Linked DNA regions of Homo sapiens: region 1 is linked to region 2. The links come from fine-mapping of genetic effects on gene expression. A gene starts in region 2. The other region holds a variant in brackets. All regions are shown on one strand. Distances are from middle to middle. Region 1 has its middle 26 kb from the start of ZNF300. Region 2 holds the start of SMIM3 (small integral membrane protein 3).

Region 1 (2,912 bases), 100 kb after region 2:
TACGAAGAATAGTTGCATTATGTTAGGTGTAATTATGACCTTATTATTGTCTTTGTTTGAAGATTATGTATGGTTTCAGGAGATGTATATGGGTTCAAGTTGACAAGGGGAGGACTTGTGATGGTTAATATTGCCAACTTGATTGGAGTGAAGGATGCAGAGTATTGTTCCTGGGTGTGTCTGTGACGGTGTTGTCAAAGGAGATTAACATTTGAGTCAGTGGACTGGGAAAGGCAGACCCACACTCAATCTGGGTGAGCACATTCTAATCAGCTGCCAGTGAGGCCAGTATTAAAGCAGGCAGAAGAACGTGGGAAGACTAGACTGGTTTAGTCTTCCGGCCTACATCTTTCCCTCATGCTGAATGCTTCCTGCCATCGAATATCAGACTTCAAGTTCTTCAGCTTTGGTATTCAGACTGGCTTCCTTGCTCCTTAGCTTGCACACGGCCTACTGTGGCACCTCACCTTGTGATTATGTGAGTCAATACTCCTTAATGAACTCCCCTTTATATATACATCTATTAGTTCTGTCCCTCTAGAGAACCCTAATGTAGTAGGTGTTATTATTATTCCCCTTTTAAAGATGAAGAAATCAAAACACAGAGAGGGTAAGTAGCCTGCCCAGGATCACATAGGTTTTAAGACAGTGACACCTGAGGATAGGTTGGGTACCATGCTTGCTAACCCTATAGGGCAGTGACTTCACTCTGCAACCTTATGAAGCCCTCTGAATAATTACCTCATTTTTATTTTTTATTATTCAGAATTTCACGGGTGACCTAAATAACCACTAGGTGTTTTAGTTTCCTAGTTTGCATTTTTGCATAACTTAAAGATTTCAGGTCATTGAATTTCATTTGCTTATACTTTTTTGTTTGCATGTTTAAATCAATTTTGCTTCTTGTACAAAGCAAGCCTTGTTTTCCTCAGAGCTCTAGAAACCAACAAGTGTACCCAAACCACAGCCACGTACCTCTTGCTTGCTGAAAGGATCCTGAGAGAAAAGCAAGACAAAGAAATACAGATCAGCTCCGCAAGCCCTAGAAATAGCAAGGCCCAGCTCAGGTGAGAAAAAAAAATCTTCACTGATTTTAGTAAGTTTAAAGTTTGGAAATAGTAAACTTTTTTTTTTGTTGTTGTTGTTGTTAATGCTTCCTAACTTTGTGAGGCTAGAGAGTACAAATAGTGATCCCAACTTCCTGACTCAGCTTCCTGATCTGTAAAATGGGAGTAATAATACTCTCTACCTCATGAGATTGTGGTGAAAGATATGCAAATCAATAGATGTGACATACTTAGGACAGGGCTCCATGTGTTTGTTGCCATTGCTATGAATTTTTACCACCATTATTGTCTTCAGG[A/T]ATAAATGACTACCCTTCTTCTCTCTTCCTTCCTCTACCTCTTCCTTCCTCTCTTCCTCTCTTCCAGCTCCTCCTCCTCTCTCCTCATCTTCCCACCTTTTTTTGCCATATTACTTTCCACTTAAAATAAAAACATAGAAAGGGTTTACTTTTTGAGCTCATCACTATGAAATTTATTTAGAATTTATCTTTATCCATTTAGATATAGGTAATTTGTAGAATTGTAGTAAAACTGAAGGGTATTCCCAATTCTGAATACATCTGATTTGTGCATCCAAATATGTATATTTATTACTGTTATAAGGTCTATATAATTATTATTATTGTGTAATTATTATTATTGGAAAAGATAAATGTATAATTATTGTTGTTATATTATTATTATTTAAAATTTGTTATGAGAATAATTATTATTGTCTCTTAGGATTCTTTCAGTAAGAAAGAAATAAGTGGCTGCAATGTGGGTATACCTGTTGGTTTCCAGGGCTCTAAGGAAAACAAAGTTTACTTTTTACAAGAGGTATAATTGATTTAATGAAGCAAATGAAAAAATACTAGCAAAATTCAATGACTTGGAATCTTTAAATTATGCAAAAATACACACTAGGGGTTAAAACACCTAGTAATTACTTAGGTCACTCTTGACTCTTGAAATTCTAAAAACAACTGCATAAAAATGTTCATATCAGTAAGAAAAATCCAAAATGCTGATGGTAGCTGAGATGGATGTCAGTGTTAGATGCATAAGAAAAGGTAATGAGTAAAAAGGGAAAGGTAAATGAAGCTTCCAAGGATGTGCAGGTTATCCAAAAATTTAATTGCATGCCAGTGTTTATTTTTGTTAAACTGGCTTACTTGCTTCCATCAGAAGTAAGAAATGTAGATGAGGTCTGTATTACATAAATGTGCATTGAAACACCAGTGTCAATCAGAAAAATTAGAAAAATCTTTGTTTTCAGATTCTCTTTGCATTTATTGGTAATTTAAGCACTAAAGAATTATTCATGTGTTAAGAATATGTCATCATTAACCTCTTTGAATGAAAGCAATGTATTCATTCATCCATTTAAAAAGTAATGCTTGCCAAGTACTTAGTCTGGCCAGGCACTGTGCTGGCTAGGCACTGGGGGTATAACTTCCACAAGGCTCACATTCCCTACCCACTCTCTTGCAGCTGGCCTGCCATGAGAAATACCTCAAGAGTACTCCAGAGAATTCCACAAGGCCCAGAAATATGTAAGTATTTAGAAACTTTCTACAGTGAAAATACACAATGAACACTAAGGATAGAAGCAACAGCTAAGATCACTTTTTATAAAACATAGTGTGGGTCACAGCTCATTGTGATGGGGTAGGCCAAGGCATGAGATTCCAGAGAAAGAGCCCAAGGTAAAATTCAAGGGTACACTTACTTCTTAGGGTGGCTTCTTCAGCTGAGTACCAGATAAAAAGATAGCTTGTGTTGAAGCAGTATATTGTAAGACTAAGGTGTGTCTTAAACTCAAGAATTACCCTCAGAATGAAAAGCTGCTCATAAACGTGAGCAGCA
Region 2 (2,912 bases):
AGCCTAGGCAGCAGACTTAACATGGTATGCTCCTGTGGGGATTCATACTTTATTTCTGGCTTGCTTTTAGGGTCCCAGGGCAAGTCGATATTAAAGAGATACTAATAAATTGCTAAATGGAAAGGGAGACTAGGACTCAGCTGGCTCCAGGCCTGAGCTTCTGCCTTGTCCCAGAGGGAAGCCAATGTTCACAGCAGGGCACATGGAGTTACCAGTTGTCCACCCAAAGGAACTCTCATCCCCTTCACTAACCAGGGAAAATGTCATATTAAGATTGTCCTCCTGTTGCAGTGAGCCGAGATCATGCCACTGCACTCCAGCCTGGGCGACAGAGCGAGACTCCGTCTCAAAAAAAAAAAAAAAAAAAAAAAAGATTGTCCTCCTTCAATCTTTTTTTACTATTAAATGAGAGCTTTGTATTAAACTATTCAGAATTGGGTTGTCCTTGTTTTTAGGTTCCCACACTATCTCTTTTGAATAAAACATGTTGTTGGGTGACAGCCCTTAGGGTTTTTCTCAAATCATTTCTCATGTGAATCCCCTTCATCCTCACTGTCCTTCCCTTAAGAAACTGGCGTGTGATAATGATGATTTAGAGGTCATTTCTGCTGACCTCATCCCTGAATCAGAGGAAACAGCATGGAGTAAGTTCTAAGTTCGGGGCCCACACCATATCAAATTTAGGCCTGGGGAAGGCAGTATGGCTCTTTCCAAACCCTCCAAAACACTACTGGGCTCCAAGACTGCTCAAGGTCTCACTGATAGTCAAGGCTTGTGCTCCTTTTTTTCAGAAGAGTAAGATTAAAGAAAACCACTGTGAATTAAAAAGTGTGGGTGCCAACATGGGACGGGAGTCCCCCCTCACTCCATGGATGACATAGAGGGGGCAGAAGATTACAGAATTGGCATTGTCCTGCGTGGAAGCTGGGCCACCCACAGTGGCGTGGGAAGCCTCTCAGATGCTGGATTCTAATGGGCTCTTGATCACCTTGGATTGGGCTATTTCATTGTTATCACAAAATAAACAGGATGCTCCAAGTCATGTTATGGCAGAGAACCAACCAGCTTCACACTGGTCCTCTAAACCAATCCTCACAACAGGACTGGGAGACAGGTGTTACCTTTCCCACTTTACAGAGAATGAAACAGAGTGGCAAAGCCTCCGAAGGACCCTACACTTCGGACATCGCAAAGCAGGATCTGAGTCCCGGCTCCTCTGTCCAAACCTACTTGCTAGGCTTTCTTTCCCATGTCTACTCTATAGCTGGAAAGGTCGTGGAGGACACATTTTAGGCCAACCCTCTCGGTTTACAATCCAGAGAGGGGAGACCCTCAGAAGCCAAGCGACATGTCCACGGCTACGCGGCGAGTGTGTGGCAACGTGGAAGGGGAGCCCGAGACGCCCTGGTCTCTCCCTTCTCTCGCAGGTTCCTTTCTCCCCGAACGCAGCCCGCAGGGGACGCTGGAGGAGGAGCTGAGCTGGAGTTGCCGGGGCCCCGGGACCGGGCGTTCCGGGGGCGGTCCCCAGCAGCCGCGCATTCCAGAGCCAGCAGCGCGTCCTGGCCGCTCCTGCGCTCTCCCGCCTCCCGGGGCTCGGAGGAGCCGGGGCACGTTCCAGGAGCTGCCTAGGGCTGAGGTTCCAGGCCTGGGGGTCGCTTCCAGCTGCCAGATCCCGTGCAGTCCTGGGGACCCTGAGAAGCACCGAGCCATCCCTGACCCAGGAACTTTCCGCAGACTCGCCGCCATCTGGGGTGAGTGGGGCCACCGGGGGATTGTTTGTGGGGCTCTGGCAGAGCGGAGCTCTTCGGATTCGCGACCTACCTCTAGTGCGGCCCCTTTCCCCGGGCTCCCAACGTTCTTCTTTATGTCCGGTCTCTCCTCCCCATTTCTCCCTTTTCATCACTTTTGTATTTCTTGCCCTCACCCCCTCCTTTTTCTCCTGCTGTCAGCTCTTAAGTTCGAGCCTCCTAGTGCACAGAATTTTGGGCCTGGGGGAGGCGGAGCTTGGGTGGGCGAACCCCAGCCCCACTCGGAGACTGGCTTCTCTCCGGGTCCGCTGCCCTTGCCTTCTCGGGAAGCCTCCTCCTCGGGCAGACTGCCACCTCCTGGCTCTCCAGGCCCAGCGTCAGGGTTCAGCGCCCGGGCCTGAGCACCTGCTTGGGCGCTGCGCTGGGTTTGGGTCTTTGCACTTACCTGTCCCGCTTTTCTCGAGGCCCCGTGTAGAAGGCGCCAGGAGTTTGGAGTCAGGAGTGGCGGGTTCCAGCCCTGGTTCTGTCACTAACTGCTTCACCATCCTTGTTTTTCCATCAGTGAAATTGGGAAAACATTTTCTGCGTGCAGAAAGCAAAGGAGAAAGGACATGAGCAAAGTATCTTGGAGAGAAGGCTTCCTTCAAGCTCCCTCCTGCTGGTTAGCTGTCCCTTTCCTGAGGACGTAGTTGTTCCAGTTGCTGGTTGTTTTGCTCCCTAGTCTCCCCCATGCCAGTTTCTTGAGGGTAGGGACTGCCTGTCTATCGTCATCTCTGAGGCATTCTCAGCTCTTGGAGCAGGGCCTGGCTAACAGTAGGTGCTCCATACATATGTACTGAGTGAAAGGATGAAAGGTGTAACCCCCCCCGCCCCCCCCACAAATTGAAACAAACCTCAGGGGCTGTTATTCTGATTGAGGGCCAGGCTGGGCTCTTACTTATGCAGCTGCACTTGTTTCTTCTGGACCAGCTGGAATCCTGCTGCACCTGGGGGCTGAGGAGTCTCCGGTTCATCTGTGGTGAATACTAAGGTCCTCAAAGCTCCAGGGTGTGGTGGTGAAGGCTGCGCAATCACACAAGTATCAGAGATTCCTTGAACATCTGCTATGATGCGTGCTGCTACTGCAGTGGCCACATAGTTTGGAAGGATTGGGGATGCCTGAAT

Evidence for each region.
Region 1: its variant is fine-mapped to the expression of SMIM3 in whole blood (INTERVAL, PIP above 0.99).

The regions. Positions count from the first base shown.
Region 1 is chr5:150,877,048-150,879,959 of GRCh38, forward strand. It overlaps a transcript of IRGM not described here. Among named protein-coding and RNA genes, the nearest start is that of ZNF300, 26 kb to the right of the region's middle. The variant A/T (reference allele first, on the strand shown) is at 1,364.
Region 2 is chr5:150,777,222-150,780,133 of GRCh38, forward strand. SMIM3 (small integral membrane protein 3) reads left to right here and starts at 1,536. Exons shown (of 2, transcript NM_032947.5): 1 at 1,536-1,751. It overlaps LOC124901110, which reads right to left. Exons shown (of 2, transcript XM_047417995.1): 1 at 2,686-2,912; 2 at 1-2,330. The coding sequence starts at 1,900. The coding sequence ends at 1,259. RefSeq lists a silencer at 1,431-1,620 and an enhancer at 2,058-2,912.